4 linked regions of the Homo sapiens genome follow. The protein of the gene in region 1 purifies or fractionates together with the protein of each later gene. This does not show direct contact. Each region holds a gene or a part of one and is shown in the gene's direction. Other genes may lie near its edges.

Region 1 (5,763 bases):
GTTGCTCCTCCTCCTCGCTGCCCGGAGATCGCTTTTTGTCAGTAGTCTGAGGTAATGAGGCCCTGACGACTGAGTCATTCCAAATTTTAACTAAAAATCAAGCAAGACTGGGAATCGACCGAGACTGCCAGCTTATTGCCCTACAGGGAGAAGTATCACTGTCACCAAACTCCAGGCAGTTAGTGAATTCTCTCTCTGGTCCGGCTTCAGGAGGAGCTGCCTGTAAAGAGGGGCCGTCTTTGTGACTTACAGTCACCGTCATGGGGTCTCTGTTCTGGAGAGGTGGGCTGCTTGGACACCAGCAGGGGAATTAAGTGAGCAGAATCTGTGATTGCACTGGACTCAGCTCGGTGCGGTTGGCTGTCACCATGTTGGCGTGCCCTCTCGGTGGAACCTGAGCGTCTTTGGCTGTGTTCCTTCTTGGTCAGTGTAAGGCCCAGGCGTCGTCACTGTGGGCCTCTGCAGCAGTTCTCCTCTGCAGCAGTTCTCCTCTGCATGTTCCACCTGTAATGGCTGAGTCCAGTCCTGCTGGTCATCCCATCCTTCCTTCTGTTCAGGTGGTGGTGCCTGTCTGGGCCGTGGCCGTGATGCTGCTCTTCCAGTTTCTTTTTTTTTTTTTTTTTTGGAGAATGAGAAAATAACTTTATTTCATTGTGGGGAGCGGGCTGATGTCCAGCCTCAGAACTTCTGGAACTGCTTCTTGGTGCTGGCAGCCTTGGTGACCTGGAGCACGTTGAGGTGCACTGTCTTGCTCAGAGGCCGGCAAGGCCGGCACTCGCCCACTGTGACGATGTCACCGATCTGGACGTCCCTGAAGCAGGGGAACAGGTGTACAGACATGTTCTTGTGGTGCTTCTCGAAGTGGTTGTACTTGCGGATGTAGTGCAGGTAGTCTCGGCGGATGACAGTGGTCCTCTGCGTCTTCATCTTGGTCACCACGCCAGAGAGGATCCGCCCTCGAATGGAGACATCACCAGTGAAGGGGCATTTCTTGTCAATGTAGGTGCCCTCAGTAGCCTCTTTGGGTGTCTTGAAGCCCAGACCAATGTTCTTGTAGTACCGCAGGAGCTTCTCCTTGCCAGTTTCTCCCAGCAGGACCCTCTTCTTGTTTTGAAAGATGGTCGGCTGCTTTTGGTAGGCACGCTCAGTCTGAATGTCCGCCATCTTCCCGGCCACTGAAAAAAGGTGCTCTTCCAGTTTCTAACTCCCTGGACTCCCTCATTGGAACTGAAGCTCACAGATGTTTCAGCTGGACTAGTTTAGACTTTGCTGTATTTTAAAAGGCAGTGTTGATGCTCCAGGATTCAAATACTTAATCATTTTGTTTTGGAACCATTAGCTTTGTAGCAGAGGAATGTACTCAGCAGAATCAGCAGAACTGAAGATTTAATTCGGCAAATTAAACCTGTGTTGGCACTTTAGGAGTTGGGAGTGTTCAAGGTGGTGGGAGGCAGACGGGGAATGAGTCTCTGTCTTCAAGGATCTCGCCATGTAATGGGCACACACGCAATGGCAGACATGACGTGCTGTGGTGGAGGCCACGTGAGGTACAGTGATGGCAGAGGGGGTAGACGAGACACTTTACCTGCGGGGCCAGGAGGGTCTGCACGCGCAGGCACACACCGTCGGTTCCTTTACCTGAGGGGCCAGGAGGGTCTGCACGCGTAGGCACACACGGTCGGTTCCATATAATCACCCCACCCCCGCAAGGCAGAAGCAAAGACATCACAAAGCAAAACGCAAGTTTTCTTTTGCTAGGAAATTTTCAAGAGGACCAGATGTACAGGGTACCAGTATTCAGTGGCGCAGTCGAGTCCACATTCCACCGCGTGTAGTCCTCCGTGCCAGTTTGTAATTCATCTGTCAAAGGGGCAAGCCTGTGATAAGCAGCCATCATTTTGCTGATGCTCCTCCCCTTGTTTTGTGGGTGTCTTCTCCATTCCCAGGTGGGCGTGGCCGGCTGACCCCCAGTTCTCTTGGAGTGTGTCTGGGATTGTAGCTGAGGGGCAGGCTTGGTGGAGATCGCAGTGTTTTTCCTGGAAAGTGATTTTCAGAGGGTTCTGTGCTGTGTGTAAGGACAGGTGTGTAGTTCAGATCCCTGCCTAGGCTCTAAGGCCCATTTATCACCCACCCACCCGGAAAATCCAGGGATGAGAGATGTTACTAGATGATCATAGACGCAAACATGAGATTGAGAATTCGTTGCACACAGGATTAGCTTTTGACCAGCCTTGGTAACTTCCTTCACTTCTGTGCTTCAGACATTGCTTTAATCTTTAAATATTTTTATGTGCCAGGCACCCTGAGTCAAGACATCTAGGATCCTTTGTTTACAGTAGTTTCTTGATTAGCTATGCGAGATTTATAGTTACTAATGTTAGGACACATTTCTATTCACAGTGCTTTCTGGTTACAAACCCTTAATGCTAGTTTTACACTAATAGCATACGTAACCTTTTAATATTCTGAACAACACTGTTATGAACTCATAACTGTCTCTGGCCTGTAGGATGCAAGGTGGCAGAGAGGAATGGTGGATTATTATAGTTATGAGCAGATACTCACAGGTCTGCACGCCCTTCAGTGAGTCATTGACTGTGTCAGTGGACTGGGTTACACCCACCACCCATAGGTTTCCTCTTTTACGGGTGACCAGTCTAGATGGCAGGTAGAGTAAAAACCCCTAGAAAGACAGGCACGTCCTGCTGCGGGGTCAGTGACACACATGCTCTCGAGGACCAGCCACGTGGGCTTCTCTTTTTTTTGTTGTTTTTTGTTTTTTGAGATGGAGTTTTGTGCTTGTCTCCCAGGCTGGAGTGCAGTGGCACAATTTTGGCTCACGCAACCTCTGTCTCCCAGGTTCAAGCGATGTTCCTGCCTTAGCCTCCTGAGTAGCTGGGATTACAGGCACGCGCTGCCATGCCTGGCTAATTTTTGTATTTTTAGTAGAGACGAGGTTTCACCTTGTTGGCCAGGCTGGTCTTGAAATTCTGACCTCAAGTGATCCACCCACCTTGACCCCCCAAAGTTATGGGATTACAGGCATGAGCCATCACACGCAGCCCTTTTTTTTTTTTAGACGGAGTTTCCACTCTTGTTGCCCAGGCTGGAGTGCAATGGCGTGGTCTTGGTTCAGTGCAACCTCCGCCTCCCAGGTTCAAGTGATTCTCCTGCCTCAGGCTCCCAAGTAGCTGGGATTACAGGCGCCTGCCACCACGCCTGGCTAGTTTTTTGTATTTTTAGTAGAGATGGGGTTTCACCATGTTGGCCAGGCTGGTCTCAAACTCCTGACCGCAGGTGATCCGCCCGCCTTGGCCTCCCAAAGTGCTGGGATTACAAGCATGAGCCACCGCACCCGGCCCCATGTGGGCTTCTTGTCTATACCTTCTGTGTGGGATTTGTAAGCTAGAGGCGAAGGTTGTGTAATGTTTCTCATGAAAAATGTTAAACACAGAACATAATGTAGGTTAATATGAAACTGATTTTAAAGGAATAAATGCCAACATTTCTGCAGAATGAATGGAAGCTCATGCTAGTGTCTTACCTGTTGATAAGGAAATGAGTTAATAATATCACCAGCACATTTCAGGGTGGATAATCACTTGCCAAATGTTGGGCAAAGTTTTGCTCCCCTGAATGTAGCCCGGCAGGGCAGGCTGAGAGAGCTAACCCAGCTAGAGGTAAAGACGGGAACGGGCCCTGCCGTGAGATGCCCTTTCTGTGCCCCCACTCCAAGGCAGCTGCCTTTCTGGTGTCCTTGTACACCCTGTATAGAGTTACCACATCCCATGGCACCTGCTTTTTAAAGTTTTGTTTCTCTGGATCTGAGTTGTCCAACCTGAAGGGGTGGGGCTGCCGGCAGGAGCCGTGGCCTTGGGCAGAGTCACTCACTAGCTGAGAGGGGGGCCTGTGAGTCTGGTATTGTAATTTTTAAATTGTTTTTGAGATGGGGTCTCCCTCTGTCACCCAGGCTGCAGTGCAGTGGTGCGATCTCAGCTCACTGCAACCTCCGCCTCCCGGTTTCAAGTGACTCTCCTGCCTCAGCCTCCCGAGTAGCTGGGATTACAGGTGTTCACCACCACACCCGGCTATTTTTTGTATTTTTAGTAGAGGTGGGGGTTTCACCATGTTGGCCAGGCTGGTCTTGAACTCCTGACCTCAGGTGATCTGCCTGCCTCGGCCTCCCAAAGTGCTGGGATTACAGGGGTGAGCCACCGCGCCTGGCCCAAATTAATTTTAAATAAAATTTAAAGCTCAGTTGCCCTGTGTGACACCTACTCCACAGATTCAGAGCTGCGCTGTCCCAGCAGAATGTTCTTTAGTTGGCACCGATACAGACATTAAGCTCCTTCAGGAAAGGGCCCAGTGTGGCTGGGTCAGCATCTTAGCCTCAAAACCTAGGATGTTGTGGGTGCTCCAGGATTATTTGCTGAATGAAAAAGTTTGTATTTGTTTCTTGTACGTATGCAAATTGGGAACCAAATGCTAATTTTGTAATTGATACTTGAAATCTGACAAGTTTCATAATACATTTTGTCTCTCTCTCCTGTCAGGTATCATGATATTAGCTGGTTTGACATCAAGTCATTTGTGAGTCATCAGATCTTCTCCTGAAAATGGGAGACACAGTAGGGCCCCTCCCAGGAGCTCTTGGCTGTTGCTGATGGCAGAAGCCAAGCTTGTCCAAGGTTCACTTGTAGCCCCTCAGCGTCAGCTCAGCTGGTGTCGTCCTGACCATGGACGGCGCGTCGGCCGAGCAAGATGGCCTCCAGGAGGACAGATCCCACAGTGGCCCCTCGTCTCTCCCCGAGGCCCCACTGAAGCCCCCGGGCCCACTGGTGCCACCTGACCAGCAGGACAAAGTCCAGTGTAAGTCGTGAGGTTCCTCTGTGTGCTGGTCACAGGAGGACCTGGTGTTGAGGGAGGACGTGGTGTTGAGGGAGGATGTGGCGTTGAGACCACTGTGAGCTTTTCACTTAATTCAAAGTTGTTTTTTTTTTTTTTTTTTTTTGAGACGGAGTCTCGCTCTTTCGCCCAGGCTGGACTGCAGTGGCGTGATCTCGGCTCGCTGCAAGCTCCGCCTCCCGGGTTCATGCCATTCTCTTGCCCCAGCCTCCTGAGTAGCTGGGATTACAGGCGCCCGCCACCGCGCCCGGCTAATTTTTTGTATTTTTAGTAGAGACGGGGTTTCACCGTGTTAGCCAAGATGGTCTCGATCTCCTGACTTCGTGATCCGCCCGCCTCAGCCTCAGCCTCAAAGTGCTGGGATTACAGGTGTGAGCCACTGTGCCCGGCCCAAAGTATGTTTTAGTAACTGAATGATGCCACCTTTAGATCAGGCACATTCCTGCTAAACAGAACTCCATTAAACGTGTGGGGCAGCAGCAGTGTTTCCCTGAAGGGATCTATGGGTCTTTATCATGTTCCCTGCCTAAAATTCTACCTTTTTTTTTTTTCGACGTGGAGTTTTGCTCTGGGTGCCCGGGCTGGAGTGCAATGGCGAGATCTCGTTTCACTGCAACCTCCACTTCCCGGGTTCAAGCAATTCTTCTGCCTCAGCCTCCCGAGTAGCTGGGATTACAGGCATGCGCTACCACGCCCAGCTATTTTTTGTATTTTTAGTAGAGATGAGGTTTCTCCATGTTGGTCAGGCTGGCCACGAACTCCCAACCTCAGGTGATCCGCCCACCTTGGCATCCCAAAGTGCTGAGATTACAGGCGTGAGCCACTGCGCCCAGCCATTTTTTTTTTTTTTTTTTTTTT
Region 2 (2,402 bases), on another chromosome or scaffold:
AAAAGATCTTCAACCTTTCGGGAGGAGAGAAAACACTTAGTTCATTGGCTTTAGTATTTGCTCTTCACCACTACAAGCCCACTCCCCTTTACTTCATGGATGAGATTGATGCAGCCCTTGATTTTAAAAATGTGTCCATTGTTGCATTTTATATATATGTAAGTAATCATTTTGGGATTTTCATTCCAGAAACTTTTAGGGGTATCCTAAACATTACACATGGAATTCTTTATTTCTTACAATTGAGCTTTTTCTTTATTGTCTAATAACTCCATCTCCATCTCCTCTGGTATCAGTGGAGACCAAATTATTTTTTATTTGAACCAAATATTTCCATTTTGGAGGAGTAAAATATAAATTAAAAATGCAAATTAGTAGCAGAATCACAGCTAGAATCCTAGGTCATCTTCCTAGATCTTTTCCACTAGAAGTCAAAATAACCAAATTCCTTTCACACTCAAATACTGTTTTATGAATTATTCCTGCCATCATTCCTTTACATGTTATCAATGTAATGTTTATTGTCCAAAAAATATTTGAGGTTACATGTTTGTGTGATTTACCTGTTATTACTTAATGTTTGACTTTTCTTTGTTTCTCTTTAGGAACAAACAAAAAATGCACAGTTCATAATAATTTCTCTTCGAAATAATATGTTTGAGATTTCGGATAGACTTATTGGAATTTACAAGACATACAACATAACAAAAAGTGTTGCTGTAAATCCAAAAGAAATTGCATCTAAGGGACTTTGTTGAACTTTATGCTGAAGATTCTTCAAGTTGATTCAGTGTATTACTGATTTTTTTCTATTTGTAAAGGATTATGAGTTGTATAAAATACATACTCCCTAAACTAGATCATGAAACTGGTTTCTGTTTTATGCAGTTGTCATTTGTAAAGTCTAATAAAATATTCTCTATAATTGCTTCTAGATTACAAAAATATGACAATCTTGTAAGTAGCAGACTATGGAGAAAAATGAGTTACCTGGAGGGTCAGGTAACTTGCCAAACTAAAAAGTATGTTAGTTGAGGCAAAGTCCTAAGCAAGGTTGTGCTATCAAGGCTCAGCATACCTTCGTGGGCCTTTGATTTACCAACACTGGAAATGCCTGCCAACTAATCTTGGATAGATTCTTTAAGGCATTCCACTTAGCTTGCCAGTTGAGACAATCACCACAGTTATTACCCAAATACTATGAACATATTTTTGTAAACCAGTCATTCTGAATTATAGTGATGAGAATTTAAATATATGCTTTTCTAGAATTTGATGTTTGACCATTTATGACTTAATTACCAGAGAGCCAGTAAATTAGGACAGTGTTTCAACAAGCCTAGGCTATCTCGTAAGTTGAAAAATATCCCACTATAGTTGCTTCATGAGTATGAAGTAAGATGGCCTCTGATTTACACTGGTTCAATTTACAAATTTTCAACTTTATGATAGGTTTATCCGGGTACTAAATGCATTTCAACTTGATAGTTTCAACTTATGATAGGTTTACCAGGATGTAGTCCCACTGTTGAGGAGCATCTATTTAGGGGTTAATTACTTTAGTAATAAGTGGAAAGTAAGATACCTTGAGTAATGTTTGCCTATAAAATTGTCAGCGTATTTTTACACTATTGGCTCAAGAATGTTATAATGCTAAGGGACATAAGTTGGCAACCACTTGGTTTTTGGAAGGACTTTCGGTATTGTATTAGAAGTCTGCCCTAGCTGTTAAATTTCTGGGTATTTATCCTAAGGAATTAATTAAAGAGTTAATTGTTCCTTTCTTCAGTGGGCCATTGTTTTAGATATTTAAAAAATCCAACAGTTTCTATCATAATGTAACTGTAAAAATGTAAACACATTATTAGCATGGACTTTTAAATAAAGATTTAAAGAAAGCAAGATCGGAAATTCAAGTACGGTAATTTGTTCTAAATCAAGAATATATAAGGGAAAAGTAAGTTTAAAGTGCTATAATGATAATCAAGTGTTTTCATTTGGTGCGAAAATAGAATTTAATACTTTTATTATATTTTAATAACCAATGCAGTAGAGCTCAGATTTTTTTTTTTTTTTTGAAAGTCTCACTGCATCACCCAGGGTGGAGTGCTGTGGCAAGATCTTGGCTCACTGCAACCCTGCCTCACGGGTTCAAGCGATTCAAGTGCCTCAGCCACATGAGTAGCTGGGACTACAGGTGCACACCACAGTGCCCAGCTAATTTTTGTGTTTTTGGTAGACAGGGTTTTGCCATGTTGGCCAAGCTGGTCTCAAACTCCTGGCCTCAAGTGATCTGCCTGCCTCAGCCTCCCAAAGTGCTGGACTATAGGCATGAGCCACTGCACCCAGCCTGCAGTACTAAGTTTCAAAGAATTAGAAGTACCCAGAACCCATGTGAAAAT
Region 3 (3,500 bases), on another chromosome or scaffold:
CTGCCTCCTCATCTGGCCAGGGCTCAGATATCCTTTGTGCCCTGCTCTCCTGGTGAGTCCCGTTTTCTGGAGGCCTGGTGAATACCATTCCCTCTGTCTAGGGGGATCCCGAAAGAACTTTCCTTGTTTCCTTGCACAACAGCCTGAAGCAGTTTGAAGCTGTGGGTCACCTTAGAGATGGGCCTTTGTTTTCTTTCACTTGTGTACTTGAGGGTGTGCAGAAGAGTGACTCAGTTGCCTGTAGGTAACACCTGGCTCTCTGGATCTTACTGAAGAACTAAAAGAGACTCTGAGCAACTCAGTGAAGATTGACTCTGGCCAGGCACGGTGGGAGATGCCTGTAATCCCACTGCTTTGGGAGGCTGAGATGGGAGGATTGGTTGAGGCCAGGGGTTCGAGACCAGTCTGGACAACATAGGGAGATCCTGGCTCTACAAAAAATTAGCCGGATGTGGTGGTACTTGCCTATAGTCCCAGCTACTCAAGAGGCCGAAGTGAGAGAATTGCCTGAGCCCAGGAGTTTGAAGCTGCAATGAGCTGTGATTGCACCACTGCACTCCAGCCTGGATGACAAGCAAGACCTTGTCTCTACCTAAATAATCAACCCTGTACTTCTTACCCTTAGGCACCCCCAAGCCCTCTAAGATTCTCTAGCAGATACTTTATTTTCCAAGCAAGCCTTCAAGCATAGGATGTTTTTTTTTTCTTATTGCTCCTGAAAGGCTTTTCTCTCTCTAAGCAAAAATCTCTGCAGTGTTTGTTCCCTGCTATCTGCAGTCAAAAATCTTTCGTTTGATAGAGCTTAAAATCTTGGCACTTTGTAAATAGGTAGAGAAATCAGATTAATATGAGTTTACTTATTTTATATATATATATATATATATATATATATATATATATATAATTTTTTTTTTTTTGAGACGGAGTCTTATTTTGTCACCCAGGTTGGAGTGCAGTAGCACAATCCTGGCTCACTGCAGTCTCTGCCTACCGGGTTCAAGAAATTTTCCTGCCTCAGCCTCCTGAGTAGCTAGGATTTCAAGTGTGCACCACCACGCCTGGCTAATTTTTGTATTTTTAGTAGAGATGGGGTTTTGCCATGTTGCCCAGGATGGTCTCAAACTCCTGACCTCAAGTGATCCACCTGTGTTGGCCTCCCAAAGTGTTGGGATTACAGGCGTGAGCCACTGTGCCTGGCCTGATACGAATTAAGTGTAAAGATTGATCATGGTTGGGAAGATGAGACCTTAAATGGGAAAAGGACAAAGACTGTTTGTTTGCATGTGTTCAGAATGGTGTATGGTCAAGTACTAGTTGACTGTCTCCTATCTTGGCCAAGTCTCACATCAGCTAATATCTTAACTTGAGACATGTCATTGGTAGATAATTATTTCTATTCATTGATATAATAAAAATTTGCTATCTTTTAAGAAAATGAACCAGCAGAATTCTTACCTCAGTTCCTTATAATCTGATTAAGGTTTGAAAAAGTTTCATTAAAAAGATGTAAAATAAAATCACAATAACATTAGGCATCAGAGAAGGTTTATTTGATCTTTTAAAAAATAATGTGTTATTGACAGTGAGTGATGATTTTTGAGATTCGAATAAACTGTGGCCTGTTGACTGAGGCTGCCATATAATCTTTTACAATTTCACACCCCTCCCTGACCATGCTGCATGGTCATATTCTGGCACCTTCCATTCCTTTGTTTTTCTTTTCTTTTCTGTCCATCGTCATTTTCTTCAGTGCCTTCAGGGTTTAAAATGATTGTTTAAAAGTCCGCAGTATTTACCGAGTGTTTCATCACTTCATCCTATCAGGAATCTGAGTATTTGTCCTTTACCTCTTGTCAGGGCTGAGGGAGGAAGACGGCATGGTTACATGGGACACCTAACGAGGATAGCTAACTGTATCGTGCACAGCACTGACAAGGGCCCCAACAGTGCATTAGTGCAGCAGCTTATCAAAGGTAAGTTATTTGTGAAATTTGAATTACATTTTTGTTGGGTTGCAGGAAGGATTTAAGGGTCAAGTAGAAATGCATGTAGCATTTTTAATAGTGATTTGTGGGACTTCTTTATATTTGGCAAATTATGTATTTGAATGAGGTTCTTGAGAATGTGTTTGAACAGTGTTGTTTTTTGGTTGTATTTATGTTCATGTAGTTACAGACCATTCCATAAGCATTGGCAGGCTTGGCTGGATTCAGCATATAAGAGTCACCTATTGTCATTCTTAAAGAGCATTGCTTGGTGAATCATGCTTTTGAGTATTGTGAGTGTGAAGTACTCATATGCTAGCAGTTGAGCCACTTCAGCTATAATTTTGCCTTTTATTTTCTGAAGGCCTCTATATAGCCTCTGAATTAAGTTTCTTTAACTGGAATATTAGGGCATTTATCAGCATTTCTTTGATGTCGCTGTCACTAAAATGAGGGGTATTGGCTTCTAAAGGACTCTTTCTGTATAGCATTTCAGTTTAATCAGCCCAAGCTTATTTGGAAGAAACTATATGGATGCTTTTTTACACTGGCCCCAAGCCATGAGCCTTCTTCTAAAATGAGAGAACTGTGTACTCTGGGTTTTTGTACCAACAGGATTACCAATCCTGAGACCTATTCTGAATGTGAACAGTCTTTAACATCCATGGTACAGAATTTGTTCAGTTAAAATCATTTCCCAGTGGGTCTTCCATTTTTTCTTAAGAATGTTTGTTTGTTCAAGAGGCTATTCCCTGTTGAATGTGCACTAAAACCACAGTTGTCACCAGGGATGGAAAAAGTGGTGTGTGCCCACTTCTAATTTTGCTTCTTGAGAGAGGCATAAGAGGTATAAGCCTCTTCCTTGGGCCATTTCACCACACAGTTTATCTTTATGTCCTAACTAAGAAGAAATGGCCATGTGATATGACTGAGTTTTTAGATCAGACTTTCCTTTATGGAAGCTGCTTGCCAGGTGGTACATGTGTACACTTCTGTGAGTGTGCACACATGCATGGCTGTTTTAAACCAGAATTATCAGATGACTAGTTAGGCCTCTAAAATTACGTCATGGTTTGATTTTCTCAGAAAAGCAGTTGTTTATCCTTTTCTTTAACATTTCTCTAGAAGGTAGAATTTCACTATTACCTGTGTATCCACGTTGGCCCATGACACAAATATTTAGGAAACATGATCTTAGAGCAATTTGAAAAGCCATACTAGGTTCTGTGGAACATTCATTGGCCAGCTGCCAATGAGAGCATTTCAAGAAAGTGTGCAGGAGCTGTCATTTGCAGCATTTTCTAGACTTAACTTGACCATGGAAAAAGATCCCCCTACCCCCGACACGTTAAACACCTACCACCTTTCTCAGAAAAGCTTGTTGGAAACACACTTTCCAGGTTAAGCTTCTACCAGAGCATTTTCAGAAACTTGTTAAGTTCACAAGCTACCTTAGGGCTCTTGGCCTCATCAAGCCTATACCATTGGGTAGGGGGATTCTGGTTCCTGAAAGTC
Region 4 (3,500 bases), on another chromosome or scaffold:
GCAGTGGCGTGATCATAGCTTAACTGCAATCTCAAATTCCTGGGCTCTAGCAATCCTCCAGCCTCTGCCTCCAGAGTGGCTGGGAATACAGGCATATGCCACCACGCCCAGCTAATTTTTAAATTTTTTGTAGAGATGGGGTCTCACTATGTCGCCCAGGCTGGTCTCAAACCCCTGGGCTCAAGCGATCCTTCCGCCTTGGCCTCCCAAAGTGTTGGGATTATAGGCATGAGCCACCACTCCTAGCTCTTCAGTTAATGTTAAGGATACTTTTTTATTTATTGTATCTTTTGACTAACTGCATAATAATAATAGCAAATATAAAAACCAGCTGTATTGGGAGTAAACTTTTTATTTTGATTATTTTCCCCCACTTTAGTAAGAAGAATATCATTTAATCCGTCCTCTCTCTGTTTTAAATAAAGTACAATAAGCCATCCACATTGATGTGTTTTTGTATGTGTGGATTCAACCAACTGGATCAGAAATATTTAGGGGGTGAAAACCATGTGTAGTGAACATGTAGACTTTTTTTCTTCTCATTATTTTCTAAAATATATGTAGTACAACAACTACTTGCATAGCATTTTCATTATTTAGGTAGTTTATGTAATCTAGGGATGATTTAAATTATACTGGAGGATGTGTGTAGGCTATATGCAAATACTACACCATTTTATATAATGGACTTGAGCTCCTGCGGATTTTGGTATTAACAGGGAATCCTGGAACCAATCCCCCACAGATACCAAGGGACAATTGTACTACTCCCATAGTTTTTTTTGACTTTTTTCTAATGAAGCACATTTATATTAGGTTTCTCTACTGAAACAACGATTACGAAATGGCCCGATGAATGTTGATGTACTGAAACCACTTCCTCAGCTGGAACCACAGGCTGAAGTCTTCACTAAAGAAGAGAATCCAGAAAGTGATGGAGAGCCAGTAGGTAAGCTTCATTTTGTCAAAAGGTTAATTTAAAAACTAGAGGAGAGCCAGGCTCCTTGGCTTACACCTTTAATCCCAACACTTTGGGAGGCCAGTGTGGGAGGATCGCTTGAGTTCAGGAGTTTGAGACCAGCCTGGGCAACATAGAGAAAACCCTTCTCCACAAGAAAAACAAAAACAAAAATGAAACCCCAAGAAAACCTAGAGGAGGATTTTGAGAGATTCCAGGATGTGAGCTGATAGATATGGGCTGAGGTAGAAGTGTCCGTGGTCCTAATAGTTTCAGAAAGATGCAAGGGTTTGTTTTGTTTTTTTGGTTCTTTGTTGTTATTTAGGAGAAAATAAGTGTTTTTTGTTTGCTTGTTAGTTTGAGATGGTGTCTCACTCTATTGCCTAGGCTGGAGTGCAGTAGCATGATCTCGGCTCACTGCAACCTCCATCTCCTGGGTTCAAGCGATTCTCCTGCCTCAGCCTCCCGAGTAGCTGGGATTACAGGCACACACCACCATGCCCGGCTAATTTTTGTATTTTCAGTAGAGACGGGCTTTCACTATGTTGGCCAGGCTGGTCTCGAACTCCTAATCTCAAGTAATCTACCTGCCTCAGCCTCCCAAAGTATTGGGATTACAGGTGTGAGTCACTGTGCCCAACCAAAAAAGTTGTTTTAATATGCAAAAATTTCATAGTCTGTAACACCACATTTTCATTGTAATTGAAATTCATTTATTATGCTACACTGTTTTATTAATAGCAGTAGCTAGATTTCATATGAACAGGTCAGTTCTGCTTACATGCTAATAAGTGGGCTATTTGTAATTGTTTGGATATTTTAGTTTTTAAATATTGCTTAAATAGTTCTATATTCATAGATATTTGTATTTGTCCTATTAATTGCTTTTTAACTGGAAAAAGAAGAAATAGCTATATTTTGTCTTAAAATTCAGTTACAGCCTTCTTTGCTTTGAGGCTTGAGGTATATACGCAATAAAATTCCCGTCTTTTATTTCCTAGCTTTTTCTTTCAAAGGGACTTATGATAAACTTGGAGTAAGTAGTTGAGCAGTTAACTATCTGAGCAACCAGACTATGGTGGGGTGGTGGGGCGGCGGGGCCAGTCCCGAAATTCCCAGACATGTGGAAACTTCAGACTCATAAATGTAAAGAGATGGAGAAAGTTGCACTTACCAGAACTCCTCTCAGAAAGAGATTAGAATGTGGTTGGAAAGAATACCGTACTTTATTAATCCTTTTGGGAGGTGAGCTAAGACACATAATTTTGAATAACAAAAGATGATTATCAAACTGTCATTTTAAGGAGGGTGGATTCAGTTAATGTTAGTTAACTACTGTGCCATTCTGAATGGGGTTGAACCTCAAAGAGGTGAATTACTACTAAGCTTCTTCAGATAAAGATTAAACAACTAATACTAAGTAGAGGTTTGGAAGGGTGCCAGTTTATTAGCTGACTAGGGTTGTCCCTTCTTCATCTAAGAGTATAGCAGAATATTGGTGTAAGAATACACTCCTGGTGGGGCGTGGTGGCTCTCACCTGTAATCCCAACACTTTGGGAGGCTGAAGCAGGCGGATTGCCTGAGGTCAGGAGTTCGAGACTAGTCTGGCCAACATGGTGAAACCCCACCTCTACTAAAAATACAAACAAGTTAGCGAGACGTGGTGGTGTGCGCCTGTAATCCCAGCTACTTGGGAGGTTGAGGCAGGGGAATTGCTTGAACCAGGGAGGTGGAGGTTGCAGTGAGCCGAGATCATGCCACTGCACTCCAGTCTGGGCGGCAAAGCGAGGCTCCGTCTCAAAAAAAAAAAGAGGGAATACACACCTGTGTAGTAACAGACTGTTCCTGGAAGTGTCCTTATATTTGTAACCGCCCAAAGGGTTCACCTTGCCCACTGCCTAGACAGAGCTGATTTATCAAGATAGGGGAATTGCAGTAGAGAAAGAGTAATTCACGCAGAGCCGAGTGTGCACGTGACCAGAGTTTTATTTTACTCAAATCAGTCTCGCCAAGCATTCACGGATCCGAGTTTTTAAGAACAATTTAGTGGGTGGGAGGAAGCCAGTGAGCCAGGAGTGCTGATTGGTCAGGTCAGAGATGATATCATAGGGAATCAAAGCTGTCTTCTTGTGCTGAGTCACTTCCTGGGTGGGAGCCACAAGATCAGATGAGCCAATTTATCGATCTGGGTGTTGCCAGCTGATCCATCAAGTGCAGGGTCTGCAAAATATCTCAAGCAGTGATATTAGGAGCAGTTTAGTGGTGGTCAGAATCTTGTAGCCTTCAGCTGCATGACTCCTAAATGATAATTTCTAATCTTTTGGCTAATTTGTTAGTCCTACAAAGGCAATCTAGTCTCCAGGCAAGAAGGGGGTTTGTTTGGGAAATGGCTTTTATTGTCTTTGTTTTAGACTATAAACTATAAACTAAGTTCTCCCAAAGTTAGTTCAGCCTACACCCAGGAACGAACAATGACAGCTTAAAGGTTAGAACCAAGATGGAGTCGGTTAGATTAGATCTCTTTGACTGTCTCAGTCATAA

What was found.
Region 2: the proteins of GOLGA3 (region 1) and SMC4 fractionate together in Homo sapiens (co-fractionation; one large-scale study listed by BioGRID). This does not show direct contact.
Region 3: the proteins of GOLGA3 (region 1) and PPP6R3 fractionate together in Homo sapiens (co-fractionation; one large-scale study listed by BioGRID). This does not show direct contact.
Region 4: the proteins of GOLGA3 (region 1) and GOLGA4 fractionate together in Homo sapiens (co-fractionation; one large-scale study listed by BioGRID). This does not show direct contact.

What each region holds. Positions count from the first base shown.
Region 1 is NC_000012.12:132,821,102-132,826,864, reverse strand, and holds part of GOLGA3 (golgin subfamily A member 3), read left to right. Parts: intron 1-627; exon of another isoform or gene 628-1,184; intron 1,185-1,758; exon of another isoform or gene 1,759-1,946; intron 1,947-4,553; 5' UTR 4,554-4,736; coding exon 4,737-4,869; intron 4,870-5,763. UniProt on the Homo sapiens protein: Golgi auto-antigen; probably involved in maintaining Golgi structure.
Region 2 is NC_000003.12:160,433,052-160,435,453, forward strand, and holds the end of SMC4 (structural maintenance of chromosomes protein 4), read left to right. Parts: coding exon 1-158; intron 159-605; coding exon 606-758; 3' UTR 759-1,902; downstream 1,903-2,402. UniProt on the Homo sapiens protein: Central component of the condensin complex, a complex required for conversion of interphase chromatin into mitotic-like condense chromosomes.
Region 3 is NC_000011.10:68,572,252-68,575,751, forward strand, and holds part of PPP6R3 (serine/threonine-protein phosphatase 6 regulatory subunit 3), read left to right. Parts: intron 1-1,857; coding exon 1,858-1,973; intron 1,974-3,500.
Region 4 is NC_000003.12:37,295,271-37,298,770, forward strand, and holds part of GOLGA4 (golgin subfamily A member 4), read left to right. Parts: intron 1-816; coding exon 817-949; intron 950-3,500. UniProt on the Homo sapiens protein: Involved in vesicular trafficking at the Golgi apparatus level. May play a role in delivery of transport vesicles containing GPI-linked proteins from the trans-Golgi network through its interaction with MACF1. Involved in endosome-to-Golgi trafficking.